2 separate regions of the Homo sapiens genome follow, and region 1 is linked to region 2. The links come from fine-mapping of genetic effects on gene expression. Tissue or cell type: whole blood. Region 2 holds a variant in brackets; the other region holds the start of a gene. All regions are shown on one strand. Distances are between the middles of the regions.

Evidence for each region. PIP is the estimated chance that this variant, and not a neighbour inherited with it, causes the effect.
Region 1: FHL1 starts here. The variant in region 2 is fine-mapped to the expression of FHL1 in whole blood (TOPMed, PIP above 0.99). The same link has a PIP of 0.9 or more in blood mononuclear cells.

Annotation. Positions count from the first base shown.
Region 1 is chrX:136,192,357-136,200,465 of GRCh38, reverse strand. It overlaps FHL1 (four and a half LIM domains 1), which reads right to left and starts at 3,419. Exons shown (of 6, transcript NM_001159699.2): 1 at 3,332-3,419. The coding sequence starts at 3,353.
Region 2 is chrX:136,139,022-136,147,108 of GRCh38, reverse strand. It overlaps a transcript of FHL1 not described here. Among named protein-coding and RNA genes, the nearest start is that of FHL1, 54 kb to the left of the region's middle. RefSeq lists an enhancer at 2,518-3,717. The variant C/G (reference allele first, on the strand shown) is at 3,215.

The sequences.
Region 1 (8,109 bases), 53 kb before region 2:
TTTCCTTTCTGTAAGGACTTCTTTCTTGGGCCTATTCTCCTCTGCTTTCATGGACTTATGAACCTAATGCAATATGACATACTATTTCCTGATTTTAAAAATCATCTTATATGACGTGTAAGGTGCTGAAGTCTAACCTACACCTTAGGTCCACATAAATGTCCCCTGATTTTCTAAGACAGAAAGCATCATTATTAAATAATTTAATTAAAAATTAACTAAATTAAAGTTTTACAAGCTTAGAATACAGTTAGAAATGTGGCTGGGTGATAAAATTTTAGACATTTATTCCAAAAGGGTAGCCTGACTTTCTATGCCTGCTTCAAAAGACACATCATTTTCACTTAATAAACAAGCTTCCTTTTTCAGAAAATTCTTGAACTACATCCAACATGCTGAGAGGTGCCTAAATAAACCTCAGTATCTTAATTAAAAGTTTTGGCTTTCAATTTAATCATGTACACATACAAGTAATATAACATTACAACATTTGTTTTTTTCTTTTTTCTTTTTTACTATAAACCTCTCATTACAGTCGATTTGTATTTAATAAATCTTGCTTGTGTTTTTACATGTATTTTCTCATGTATTTCTTCCTATTGTTCATCTTCTCCCTCATGCCTGAGTTGCTCAAACTATGAATATTTAAGGAGAATGTGAATATCATGAGTAGGTAGCATTTTTCTATGTGTTTTCCATGAAGGGTGTAATGTACAGTGTAAACAATGAACAACAACCCAAATGGAAAAAAATCAGGTTATTTCAGATCTGTTCTTCACTAAATCCAACCTACCAGTACATTAGTGACTCCACATATAAACACTGGCTTCTAAAGAAAGGGTATAATGCTTTCCTCAGAACATTCAACAGATGGAGCAAAGCCTTAGCCAATGAATAGGACACTTGTGTAATAGACATGCTAATGCACCTGGAGGTGTCGTCAGACATTTGGGAATAAATACCTAAGTAGCTGCAATGAGACGGAGCTCATGAGTCACGGCTGAAAAGTAGTCTTTCATACAATTTCATACAAAAATCAGAAAGTGTTTTTTCCCTTCAAAATAGAACGTGTACAGAATGATTCAATGTAATTAGCAACTTCACTGGTATGCTGCATTTAGAAAAAAAACAAATCTTTTTTGGGTCACTGATGTATAACTAATGCCATTTTAGATTATATCGGGTGTCAGGAGGGTTCGATATAGATTATTAAAAGAAAAATTATGTGCCACTGAACTTCCTGCAGTCCAGATTCAATTCTAGTACCATTTTGTCTGTATATGAAGATTTTTCATAATGTTGCACAGATTACGTGCAACACAGCCCCTCTTTCATATGGGAAAAAAAGCATTTCTGACCCGGCAGCAAAAGAGCATGTGTTTTTAGTTTCTCCAGCTGTGGTGAAGTAGTAGGTAGTCATTTGGTGGTCATCAAAAGCACAAAATGTTCAGTTTCACTCTCACTCAAATCTTCTGTATTTTAAGAAGCCAATCCAGTTGGATTACTTTCCTCTCATCCTACCCTCTCATTTTCCATCCCTGCCCTGAGAAAAGACTGGCGGGCTTGTGCGGCCCACTGAGCAGCAGCTGGTGAAGGGAATCGATGGCTGTGTAATATGGCAAGTGACCTGATCCCCCTCCACACCCCAAACCTGGTTTTCGACTTGAAAGGCCAAAGGCTAAAGAAATTGAATCTACATAATTTTGCAGACAGAAAGTCTTCAATGTCAAGAGTATACATTGTTTTTGTCCTTGAAATGTCCTCTCAGTATATGGATAGTCACTAAAAATGGATTTGGATCCAATTATCCTAGCTTCTATTTTGCCCATACTGAGCCCGTTTCAGGGCAACACTGATTTTCTATGAGGACTTCTCTGTCTCATGGACTGATTCTTCTCTGCTTTCATGAATCTATTAACCTAATGCAATACAAAATGCAATTTCCTGAATTCAAAAATCATCTAAAAGGTATAAATAATTGGTCCCATTTAGCCACAGTTATTAGAGCCTCCAGACTTACATACACAAGAACGACATAAGAATTTGGTGCAATTTAAAACCCAAGGTTGGGTATGCTATAAACTTTCTGTCACTATTTAAACTTTTAAACTTTCTGTCACTATTCTGTCACTTAATTAGTAAACAAAATGAGAGTTATTCTACCAGGTAACATGCATTTAAGGTTCATCAGGACAACTAGCACAGCTGACTAGTTTGCCTACACCCAGAGAATGTGTATCTTGGCTGATAACCACAATCTCAAGCATTTGGTACCATGTTTGTGAAACAGCTCCTGAGGGTTGGAAAAAAAAAAAAACCAGACAACTTTTGAACACTTGGGAACAGGGAAGACATTACATATTAATTCATTAAGGTAGGGCATTCCATTGCAGCATATTTAAAACCCCAAAAAGAGAAATTTCCTAAAGTATTTCCATTGTTTAAATATTGACAGGCAATGAGTTTTAAAAAATGATTTTTCAAAAAAAAAAAAAAACATAGATAATGACATCCCTTAATCTGAAAGCTGGGAGACAGGATGAAGTGCCTTCTTTATATCTAACCGTCTGACTTTACCAGCCCCAAGAAAGGGAACCGTTACTTAGGCAGAGGGCCACAGGGCCACAGCCACCCTCCTGGCTTCAAATAACTGGGCTTTTGGCCCCTCAGCCCCTAGTTCATAGATTTCTTGTCGATGGCCAAAGGGCTTCCTTAATTGTAAGGTTACAAAACCAGAAGAAAATGCTCATGTCCCAAGGAGTCCAAAATGTGCCCCTTTTTCTGCTAAAAACAATTAATAACATACTTAGCATATCAAAAGGAACATAGCTGTTACTTCGGGAAGATTTAAAACATTGTCAGCAAAAGGGAAGATGTGCTAGGTCATTATGGACTTTCTTAGTTACAAATGTTCCTCCTTTCAGCTCCACATTCGATTTACCTTCTCCAAACACCTTGGATGTAAAGCACTGTCAAGATGAAGAATTGTATCTTATAAAAAAGAAAGCCAAAAATTCCTAACCAGAAAAACCTTTCCTCCCACAATCTCTTATAGTTTCATGAGATGTCCTGAAAAAGGTAAAAATATAGTGGTAACATGTTTATATACTTCTTTTTAAAATAAATCACTCAAACTGTTCATTGTACTTGAACAATATTTTGTCTTTGAAATAGCATGAAAGGCAAAGGCAAAACAGAGACAAGCTATAATTTATTTACTATTCAGACAAGACTAAAATCATTTCATCAAAAACCATCTTTTAGCCCAATGACGGATTCACTGCCCTAACAAAACTGTGCTCAATATAAGATAAAGAGCATGAAGTTTTACCTGAGTGTCTATGGGAAGCCATGGCTCAGAGACCAAGTTCAGGAGCAGCACCTAGACCAGTCTTCCCTCAACCCCAGCTGATAAGGCTGTGGCTCATTTGTGAACATACATTTAAGGGGAAGCGGCTAACACAAAAATAACCGAGAGCAGATGTCCCACCCCTCCCCAGAGATCACAACCTTAATCCCACTAGAAAATTCTTAACCATTTTAGGTGATCCAAGGGAGAAGAATAGGACCCAGTAAAAATACCAAACGCTACATATAAATACCTGCGGGGCTACTCAGCATCCAAATTAGCTCCAGAGCCAGAGAGGCCACATAGAAAGTCATCCCTGTACCGGAATAAAATTTGGACTCGGCTCTGGCATAGCTTAACGCTGAGCCAACCTTATTAATCCACTTTATATGCCTCAAGAGCTTGCATTTGGCCCTGTAAATAATACATTTTTGTGCTGTTAATGATAAAAGTAACTCTAAGAGATAGACTTATGTTACCAGTGTAACTCAAGGAGATTAGACAGTATGAATATAGAGATTAAGGGGATTATAGATGTTGTCACTCTATGTCCTCCTTAGTATGTTCCAGAGATCAGCAGATTACTGTACAGGAAAGGAGAGTGATCGTAATCTCCCCACCTCCTTAACGGCAGACAGCACAGAACAAGATGGGGAGACTATGCCTATCCCCATCACACACACAATGAAGACATTTTGTCTCACAAACTCAACCTCTTGTTTTTCAGCATCAGGGACAATAAAAGGAAAAACATGAATGAAAATGAAGACATCAACCTAAAATGTTGTAATAGCTCAACAGGCCATCAGATGTCTGGGGGCTGGCTATTAGGAGCATGTTCTAGGAAAAGAAAGCCCCCAAGTCCCTCCAGGACCTTCTTCCACATTCCTTCTCTGGCCTTACCCTTAGCCCCCTTTCCCTCACTCCCACCTCACTGGCCTCCTCACTGTCCCCTGTGCCCAGAGTCATGGTTGTTCCTTTCCCTACTTCAAGTCTGCTGGTATTGCACTGATTTCTCTCCTTGCTGTCTGATCTCCTGCTTTGCTCCATGAAGGCAGGGATTTAGTACTGGAGCTCACTGCAGTGGCCCCAGAGCCTAGAACACTGCCCAGCTCCCAGGAGGCTCTCAATAACTATTCCTTGAAAGAATGAACTAAATAACTGAAAAATCCATCAAGCCTCCAAAACATAGTCCCACCTGCAATCCTGAAAGTGGTTTTGGCCACTCAACTTCAAGGAAGGCAGCTGACCTTCTCGCTGGTACAGACACCTTTATAGCCACTGTCTTGTTTAAGTGGTTTTGGCCCTATTCACACATCTCCCCTACCAGGTTGAGGGCCAGGGCAGTGCTTTGCTTGTCTTCATGTTCCTATAGCACACAGTAGGTGAGCAGTAAATGCTCCATGAATAAATGAATGAATGAGTTCCCCAATTCTTACGATCTTCAAATGTTTAAGGAAAAGTTATTCTAAAAGACAACTGACATCAGTAACTCCCAGTTAGCTAGAAAATGACACAATAAAAGCCAGGTTGTTACGAGTAAATTTATTACATGTTAGAGGAAAAAAATAAGCCTGGGAAAAGAAGAGAAGCTACACTGTGCTCTGGCTCCACGCCTTTCTAGTCTCTTTCTCATCCAGCCTGATTAAATTATGGTGCGGAGATTAGCCAGTTGTAACAACACCACACCCCTAAAATAAACTGAAACTTTTCACCTAGAGGAAATTCTCTTACTTTATTAGATGATTAACCTTAATGAACCCTGAATTTTTTATTTTAGCAAGTTATATTTTTAGGAAGAGCCCATGTATGTTGAAATGCCTCTCTTGCAGCGCTGTGAACAATAGGCTTGGTGTGCCAAATACTTTCCTTTAGGAAGTCAATTCCTGTTTCAAGCTATGCATCAGGAAGTGTCTTCTTTTAGGCAAGTATGGTAGTTCTTTAGGTTTCTGATCATTTTGAAAAGTGACAACAGAATATGGATAGACAGCTTTATGAAAGTATCAAAAAACAAATCTGTTTTGCCTAAAATACAAGAGAAAATTCAAAGACAAGAGAATCACTTTTTGACCACCATGAATTAGTCAACTATGACCAGCCAGGATGGACTGGGAGCTTGGGCCTGCAACAATAGCATTTATTCCAGTTACTTCCATTTGCATCAACCAGGTAACTGTGCCCTCCTAAAAACTTCATGAAGCATGACCACTACCTGCTCTGACATCTGGCCCTACTGCAGATGTCCTCAAGCCACAGAATTAGACCTTCCACAAAACCAAGACAGAAACAGCCCCTTGCATGATGAGAAACAATTTCTTAGGAAGAATAGTTGGTAACTTTGTCCTGTCTTGGATCAGTGGCTCAGAACCCTTGCTGGCTATTTCACAGGTACCTGGAGTCACGGGTTTCATTGGCATATTAGTCAATCTTGTTATATATTAACAGTATGATGTTTAATAATATCTTTAAGAATCACTGTACTGTTTACAACGCACCTTTATATACTATTGGTGGAGTTGGCTGGTGTTTGGGAGCAACTCTCTTTGGTGTATGATGGTTACATTTCAGGCCTTCTAGTCTCACACTCTAGCAGTATCCGGACGCTTTTTTCAGTGAGTGCTAGGTATCAAACTCCCTGTTTCCCTTCCATGTGACCCTCTGCGAATCATTTACTTCAGGGTTTATCTACACATCCTTATGGTCCTACTATCTGCAGATACATTATGACCTATTATTGGGTTAACCTGTAGATAATGCCGCCCCAGCCATTGCTTTATTGTATATGACAAGCATTTATTGGACAGATGCCCTACTATGTGGTGCAAGGTATTTTACTGGTCACAAAGAATAAAATACAGTCCTTACTTTCAAGTGTAACAAGATAAATATGCAAATGACTACTATGCAAGGCAGAGCCTTACAAGTATTACAAGAAAGGTATAAAGTGTTACTGACATTTATCACAGGGAGAGATCACATCTGGTTTGGAGATGAGAAAAGACTTGATGGATGTCACGGCATTTGACCTGGTCCCTGAAGAATGATTAAGACTTTGGCATGCAGACAAGGGGGAGGGAGTGTTCCAAGAAAATGGTACCATGTCACCTAAGGTATGAGAAAAACACAGGACGTGTTCAAGAAGCAGGATGCAGCTGGGGGGGGTTGGGGTGTGACAGAAGCACAAGATAAGGAAGTAGTAGGACCGAAAGCTAGAGAGGAGGGAAAGCCACACACGGAGGATCTTTCTGCAACTGGTGCAAGGGGAGAATGAGATGGAGTCATGCAAGCAGTGATAAGAAGAGCAGATCTCAGAGAAGAGAGGAGGCAGGGAAGACAGCACAGGGTAATGCAATTGTCCACTGAGATGCAAGGAAAGACTGAAAGAATGAGAGGCAGGGGCAATGGGCATGGAAAGGAAAAACTAGATATAAGGGACACTGTGACAGGGCTACAAGAACTGAAAGAAGGGGAAGGAGCCAAGGATCTCTCTGAGGTTGTGACTCTGGGTGACTGGGAAAATAATGGGGAATATGGGAGGCAGAGCTGGTGTAGGGAAGAATGGCACTTTATTTTAGACTTCACAATGAGTTTCTTCTGAGATGTCAATAATGAACCCCCTTTAATGGGATCCCAGTTATCAAGGAGCGAGAGAGAACAGTAAGATTACAGTAGAATCACGTTTGTGGGATTTCTCACACTGCAATCTAATCCTAGCCTCTCTACCTCAGAAACACCACTGGGAGGATCAAACTTCAAAAGTTCAAAGTGGTGCAACCGAAGAATCAAACACGGCAAATTCAGTGACCCACTTAGCCCACATTTCAGGACTTCCTCATTCACAGCTTGACTTGTGGTCACCCTTCTCCCTTTACTAGATTTTTCTTTTCCTGAAGAAATTTCCAAATGGTTAAAAACTTATTCAGACAATTACTGGCCATTAGTCATGGCCAGGGGCAAGAGGCTGATAACAAACTGTAATGGAGTCTTTGTGGATTTCTCCGTGGTTTCATGTCCAGTTGTTTTTTTTTTTTTTTACATGACTCTTCTTTCCCTCATATCTACTACTAATAAATTAATAGACTGCAAGTTTTTTTCTCAATATAATTTTGTCAGGCTACTTAATCCCTCTGCCAACAATTTCTCCTGAGTGAGTCCAACTGCAAGATTAAGGCAACTAGTCATGCACTATGATATGATGTGATTCAATGTTGAGCTCTCCAGAGTATTTCTTGTCCTATGTACTCTTGCCAGAAAAAAGCTCAGAACAGCTTCAGCCATCTCATGTTCCTGTCAATCTTTAAGGTGGGAAGAGTACTTTTTCCTACTGACACGTCCAATTTTGCAAAGTCACTGCTTAAATGTCACAATTCATGGCATACCCATCAGAGAGTAAAATGAAGGAGCACCCCTGGAACCCCAAGAGGGGGGATTTGGTCATGTAAGGTCCTAATGAAAACAAACCTGAAATTCAGCCTCCCCAAAGGGTCTCTGAATCTCAGAGAAAAGGAAAAGGTATGAAAGAAGACCTGTAACAAATGAGAAGATACATGAAATAAAGGACACTGTAAACAGCAAAGCACCTGGAAAATGCTAATTAACTCCACTGAAGACCTGTTCATTTCACAGTTGACCAGGGCTTAGAATTTTCCTTATAATATTCACAGAGAGATTACGAAGCATGAGCCATGGCCCCTGTCTTTTGATTTTTGGTAATGTCATGATCAGTAACAGTTTTAAATGTCTCTTGTCCCCAAAGTCTG
Region 2 (8,087 bases):
TCACGAATCACTGCAGGCGGCTGGGGCTGGGGAGGTGGGAGCAACAAAGACAGCCAAGTGAGGGTGGCGTCTCGCCTCACCGGGGTCCTCGCTAACCTGCGCACTCCCTGAAAAGCGGCCCCGCTTCGGGGCCCACGCCGTTTCGGCCTCCGACTTCGGAACCCGGTGGCTTGCAGCGGCGCCGAAAGGCCCACCGACGACCCCTCCCCTTAGTAGCAAGCCGGAGGGAGCTAAATAAGCCCCATCCATAATCCCAGTGCCACCATCCAGAGCGTTTTAACGTCACTCAGAAAGCACCGATGGCAAAGCGGCGCGTGGCGTCTCATTCACTCAGCATTCAGTTTACTGAGCCCTCGCCATGTGCCAAGCTCAGTGCCGGGCTCTGGTGATAACAGCGTTGTCTGCAGACAGTACGCACCCTGCCCTGGGAGCTTGTAATCTAGTGGGGGAGACAGACAATAAAGAAGTGAGAAAATAATCAAATTTGGATAAAGCCTGTGCAGGAAAAGTACAAATAGTGTGATTAGGAAAGGAGGAGGTGACATTTAAGCTGAACCCTGAAAGATATGAAAGAGCCAGGAAAAAGCTTTCCAGAAAACAAGTCAGAAGGAGGGACCAAATCTTGATGCTTTGGAACTAAAAGGTGGTGATCATGATTGGCGCCAGGAAAGCTGGGGAGAGTACCAGAAAGTAAGGCTGGACAGGTTGGCAGGGACCAGATCGTGGATTGCATACTAGTCCATGGGCAGGTGCAGTCCATGGGCAGGCCACTTCATTCCAAAATCAATGGGAGGGCATTGAATGAGTGGCTTAACCCCAAGGCGTGACACGGTCTGACTTATATTTCTTTTAACTAAACTTTTGTCTTTTGGGATGATTGTAGATTCACATGCATTTGTAAGAAATAATACAGAGAGATCTGGGGTCCCCCTTGCCCAATTTCCCCCAATGCAAGACTACACTATAAGATAACTAGAATATTGACATTAATACAATCTACCAATCTTATTTTGATTTCTTCAGTTTTACTTCTACTGTGTGTGTGTGTACGCGCGTGCACGTCTGGTATGTGTGTGTTCTATACAATTTTATCACGTGTGGCCTCTTTCCACTACCATGGTCAATTATAAAACAGTTTCATCATTGCAAGGATCTTACCTGTTGTATTGTAATTATAAAACAGCAATAACTATCTCCTCAGTTCCCCAAGTCTTTCACCATTGGCAACCACTGATCCGTCCTCCATTTCTGTAAGTTTGATATTTTGAGAATGTTTTGTAAATGAATCATACAATATTCATTTTGAGATTGGCTTTTCTCACTCGGTTTTGAGTCCCTTGAGATTCATCCAAGTTGTTGGGTGTTTCCATAGCTTGCTCTTTTTTATTGCTGAGTAGTATTCCAGATCTGGTTTACATTTTTAAAAGACCACCTTGACTACTATATGGAGAATGGTTCAGAAGAGATTAAAAATTTAAATAGGGAGATTAGTTAGGAGGCTTTCTCAATAGTTCCTATCAAAGCTGATGGTGGTTTAGATTAGGGTGGTGCTAGTGGAGGAAAGTGGAAGGATTTGATGGAACAGGGTTGCAGAGGGAATTGGAGTTGAAGTAGAGACAGCATAGGGTAGACAACTGTTTTGAGACTTTCCAATGTAAATGGGAAGAAAAATGGAGCAGAACTGGAGGAGCGAGTAGGGACAAGCAAAGATTCTCTTCTCTCTTTGTGATTTGAGAGATGAGAGCCTGTTGGTCAACAGTTTAGGGATAATCAGTAGAGAGGGGTTGGTGAGGCATGACAGGAGGGTTTACTAAAGGAGTCAAGTCCCCTGCCTAGGTGAGATGGAATAAGGGCTGGATTCATGGGGAGAATTGGCCCTCCATCTGCCGAAAGTCATTCTTCACTGTACAGAAGACCATGGAGGTAGATGATGATGACAGGGGCGGGTGTAGGGATGGTGTGGTATACACAGATCTAGCAAATAGATCCTCATGATTCCTATTTGCCCCATGTCGCACAAACTGGCTAGTGGTCTCCCTTACCAGAGAACCAGCAGCATAAGCGCTTACAAAGTACCCTTCTCTGCTCCTAGCACCAGGGGCCTGGGCTTTCTCTTTTCCCCTTCTAAGCCCTCAGAAGCACTGAAGTTTGGTCCTTCTAGATGGCAAGAGAAGTCCCGCTACACTGCCTAGGAGAAGAGGAAGCCAATCTGCCCCCACTCCATCATGGAAAGGCATTGAACAATTAGCTTGGCCACAGACAACTCCCCACCCCATACCAGCCCAAAGAAACAGCCCAGCCCAAAAGAAACAGCCAAGAGGCACCCATGATGGAAGGCTCTGGACAGAGCACCCTCTTTCAGGGAAACTTCTGGCTATTCTTTGGCATTCAATCAGTGTTAGTTGTGATTCATTCTTCTCAAGACTCCTTCCTTTCTCCCTCTTCCTTTATTCATTCTTCCTTCTTGCCTTTCCAAGGAACAGAGCACGAGGAAAACGGCCTTCAATTTCAATAGAATTTAAGCAAGAATTTCCAAGAATTTCCTTGGAAGGAAATATGGAGCATTTATCAGCACACAAAGTAATCAAGTCCTTTACATTCTCTTCAAAAAGTACCATTAGAACTAATAATTCTAAGTTATTGAAAATGTATTATGTAATGGACAGTTTGCATACATCATTTTATTTACTCTTATATGAGATACTTTACAGATGAGGAAACCGAGGCTTAAGCAACCTTGGAACCAGGATTTAAAACCAAGCAGCATATTTCCAGAGCCCACAATCCAAACCTGTATACTCCACTTCCAAAACAATGAAAAAAGACTGTTCATCACTTTTATTACAGTCATCCAAAGTGGCTGCTTCTTTCAGGTTAGTTATTTTTCCCCCAAAGTGGTGCTAAGACCTTCATCTGACTTTGTCAATGGAATCCACAGGGAAACAGTGGCTCCATTTCATGATCATCACGTGTCCTGTCAATGGTGGAGCCCAAAACAGCTCTCAGAGAACACATCTACTTCTCCAGCCAGCCTTACCTCCTGCCTCTCCCCAGCCTGTAGGCTCTTAGTCCGGGATCTAGAAGGATCTCCAAAAACATCCTGTGCATTCCCCTCTTGAAACCTTAGTTACTGCGGTAACTAAGTAACCTTCTGCCTAGAGCAGTTTCAACAACTTCCTGTAGGTCCAAGGCTGAACTCTCCCCTGCCTGCCCC[C/G]ACCCTGATCTATTTCTTCCCGCCCCCTCCCCGCCCCCCCCCGTATTTCCTGTTTCCATTAATGGCACACCACCCACCCACGTGGGCAAAGTAAAAGCTATTACTTTTGACTCCATCTTTTTCACATCCCGTAGGTCATCAAGTCCTAGAAATTCTACTTCTGAAATAGTGAAACCTCACCGTCTCTTTGAAGCCGTTCCTGACCAACTCAGGCAGAATCCAGTTCTCCCGTGGCATTTGGTCATTTGGTTCATGCCGATAGGTAATCGTGACATACCTGGTCATTTCATGTGTCTGTTTTCCCCAGCAGATCATAAGCTCCTTGAGGGCAAGCAATGTATTTTCCTTGTTTATACTTCCAGTTTCTTGGAACATGGTAAGCATTAAATTATAATAGTGTTGTTGTTTTGTTGTTATTGTTGTTGTTGTTGTTATGGAGTTTCACTCTTTTGCCCAGGCTGGAGTGAAGTGGCCTGATCTCTGCTCACTGCAAGCTCCACCCACCAGGTTTAAGCGATTCTCCTGCCTCAGCCTTCCGAGTAGCTGGGATTACAGGAGCCCACCACCACGCCTGGCTAATTTTTTGTATTTTTAGTAGAGATGGGGTTTCGCCATGTTGAAAACTCATTGTGGTGAAATATAAACATATACATAATAGAGAAAATAATGTAATGAACTTCCATGCACCCAACACCCAACTTCAGAAATTATCAACACATGATTTATTTTGTTTTAATTGTAGTTCTCCTACCAATTCCCTCCAACACACATACACCGGATTATTTTAAATCAAATGCAAAACATCATATCATTCCATCCAGAAATACTTAAGTGCATATGGCTAAAAGATAAAGATGCTTTTCTCCTTTTTAGAACATAAGAACAATATCATCATCACACCTAGGAACAGTTAGCGAAAATTTCTTAATACCAAAAAATACCCAGTCAGGATTCTGAATTCTCCAGATGTCTCCCAAATGTTTTTACAGTTCATTTATTTCAAGCAGGGTATTTTTTGTGACATGTAAAATTCATATGAAATTCACATTTCAGTGTCAAGAAATAAAGTGTTATTGGAACACAAGTACATTCATTTGTTTACATATTATCTGTGGTTACTTCCTCAGTACAACAGTAGAACAGAGTAGTTGTGACAGAGATCATATGGCCCACGAAGCTGAAGATATTTACTGGTTCTTCACAGGAAATGTTTGTTGACCCCTGATACAAACAATTTCTATTTTGGCGACCTGGTAATCTGTTTAATGATAAGCATCTTTCCATGTCAAGAAATAATCTTTTTTTTTACTATTATTTTTAATTGACACATAATCATTGTGCATCTTTATGGGGTACAGTGTGATATTTCAATACATGTATACAATGTGTAATGATCAAATCAGGATAATTAGCATACCCATCACTTCAAATGCTGATCTTTTTTTTGTTTTGTTTTGTTTTGTTTTTTTGAGACGGAGTCCCCAGGCTGGAGTGCAGTGGCGCAATCTCAGCTCACTGCAACCTCTGCCCCTGGGTTCAAGTGATTCTCTTGCCTCAGCCTCCCGAGTAACTGGGATTACAGGCACACACCACCATGCCTGGCTAATTATTTTGTATTTTCAGTAGACTTGGGGTTTCTCCATGTTGGCCAGGTTGATCTCGAACTCCTGACCTCAGGTGATCCGCCCGCCTTGGCCTCCCAAAGTGCTGGGATTACAGGCGTGAGCTACTGTGCCTGGCCTGATCATTTCTTTGTGTTGGGAACATTCAATTTGGCTCTTCTAGATTTTTGAAAATATACAATAATTGTTAACGATAGTCACCCTACAGTGCCATACAACACCAGAACTTATTCCTTCCATCTAGCTGTAACATTGTTTGCATTAACCATCTTATCACTACTACCTTTCCCCTTACCCTTCCCAGGCTCTAGTAACCACTATTCTACTCTGTACTTACATGAGATTAACGTTTTTAACTTCCACATATGAGTCAGAATATGCAGTATTTGTCTTTCTGTTCTTGGCTTATTTCACTTAACATAATGTCCTCCAAGCTCATAATGTTGCTGTGAATGACAGGGTTTCATTCTTTTGTTTTATGGCTGAATAGTACTCCAGTGTGTGTGTGTGCGTGTGTGTGTGTGTGTATCACATTTTCCTTATCCATTCATCTGTTGATGGACACGGGTTGACTCCATATTGTGGCTGTTGTGAATAGTGCAATAAAACTTGGGAGTGCACATTTCTCTTTGACATATTGATTTTGTTTCCTTTGGATATATACCCAGTAGTGGGATTTCTGGATTATAGGCTAGTTCTATTTTTAGCTTTTTGAGGAACTTCTATACCGTTTTCCATAATAGTTGTACTAATTTACATTCCCACCAACCATCTACAATAGTTCAGTTTTCCCTACATCCTTCCCAGAATTTGTTATTTTTGTCCTTTTGATAATAGCCATTCTAACTGGGGTGAGGAGACATCTCATTGTGCCAGCCACGAATTTTAAAGGCCCATTTATTACATTTGGTTGCTATGTCTCTGATTAATGGTTCTTGGGTGAATGGAGGGATGGGTGAATGAATTCTCTCTACCTTCTTTCACCCATTTCTACCACAGTCCAAATTTTACCTGTTTTACAAAGATCTGTCTATCTGATGTTGGAACCTGCTCAAACCCTTCTGTCTCTCTCTCTCTCTTTTTCTTTTCTTTGCTTTTTTTTTTTTTTTTTTTTTTTTTGAGACGGGGTCTCACTCTGTCACCCAGTTGGAGTTCAGTGGCGCGATCTCGGCTCGCTGCAACTTCAGCCTCCCAGGCTCAAGTGATCCTCCCACCTCAGCCTCCTGAATAGCTGGGACCAGAGGCATGCACCACCATGCCTCTCTTCTCTCTCTTTTTCTGTAGTACGTATCATAAATGTCTCTTGCCCTTATTACACTTAATCTTATATTAAAGATTTTATGAAGGCAGCTTATCTCTCATGTAAAGTTTTCAGCTTCTTGAGGGTAAGTAAAATGCTTACTCACTATTGCGTATTAAAACCGCAATTACTTTTGCACCAACCTAATACCTAGTGGCACCAAGCACAGGGCCTTGCTCATATTAGACAACCAAATAAATTATTTCTAAGCAGAATGGAGTTAATAATTAAGACCAACATTCATAGCATCCTTTATCTCCCTCAGGTATAGTCTAAGCACCATGAGTCTTGGAGTCTTGGAATCTTGCAAACATGGGTTCAAGTCTAAGCTTGGCCTTGGTTGGTGGTGTGGCCCAGGGTAAGTTATAAACTCAGGTGTGTTCAAACATTTTTGTTCACATGCTCCCTAAAATAATTTTGAAAACCTGTGTGCCCCCACGCCATTCAGTTTAGAAATAATTTATGTGGTTGTCTAATATAAGAAAGGCCCTGTGCTTGGTGCACTAGGTACACAATAGTGAGTGAGACATTTTACTTACCTTACCATTCACGTTACAAGCTGGTATCTAAACTTTTTCATCCAATGTTTAAATAGTTACAAAACGAAGTTATTTGGGGCATATAGTATATACTGACATTCTAAAATGATTACATCACTTTTTTATTCTATCCAATTAAATTTAAATAGAGTAGTTGTTTCATACCCACCATTAGCCATTTAAATATTATACATGATTAACTTCATTAACAGTTGGAAATTTTACATTGCTCCTTTTTTCTTCTTTAAGTCATATCTCCTTCACTTCTTTCACAGAATTTTGTACTAATGTAATATATTTTACACGTGTAAGTCTGTTTTTCATCACTCTATATACATCTCTGCAATGCAAATATGTACATAAATTACATTTTTAAAATTCTTTTACCATAAAGTTCTACGTGTTAAAAGTTTTCTAGGCCAGGCGCGGTGGCTCACGCCTGTAATCTCAGCACTTTGGGAGGCCGAGGTGGGCGGATCACCTGAGGTCAGGAGTTCGAGACCAGCCTGACCAACATGGAGAAACACCATCTCTACTAAAAATACAAAATTAGCCGGGCGTGGTGGCACATGCCTATAATCCCAGCTACTAGGGAGGCTGAGGCAGGAGAATCACTTGAACCTGGGAGGCGGAGGTTGCAGTGAGCTGAGATCATGCCATTGCACTCCAGCCTGGGCAACAAAAGTGAAACTCCATCTCACAAAAAAAAAAAAAAGTTTTCTACGGGGTGGAATATAAAAAAGTTTTCTGGATAGAGTTATCTTTAGTACACAATTAATCAAAATAACTTAAATATTTAACAAGATTTGAAAAATAATTTAAATGCACAATGTAAACTTTTTTGGAAATGTAGTTCTTAGACATGGATGAAGTCTTTTTTAATTAGTTCATGCCATTTGTGGATAAATATTGTTTATGGTTAGAATGAGACAGGGCTCTGTATCAATGTTATTTTGACTTTTTACATGTTTTAAAAATATTAAGGCTAAGAAGCTTTGTTTACATAAATAAGTAGAAGGACGTTTCTCACAGTGTTGCCATACAAACCTTTGTATTTCTTCTGAGTTATGTAACTGAAATCCCATCCCATCCTGAATCTATTGTCAAAAATTAATTTTAATGATTTATTGGTTGACAATTCCATTAGATCCTTCAGAAGTTTTTTTGAAGACAAAGAATTGGAAACCACCTGTGTTGCAAAAGGTCTTGTTATGCAGCGTTCAGGTTCACTCATCTTTCCACAACAACACCCTTATTTTGGCTTCTCCCTTTGTTTGGCACGGGGAGGTTTATATCCCCTGCGGCAATACATCAAAGTCAGATTAGTGATGGAGAAAGGGGTTGTCTTTCTTTTGTAAAATGGGAGAAGGGCTGTTGAGAAAAAGGAGGAGGAAAAGGAGAATCCACCTGCC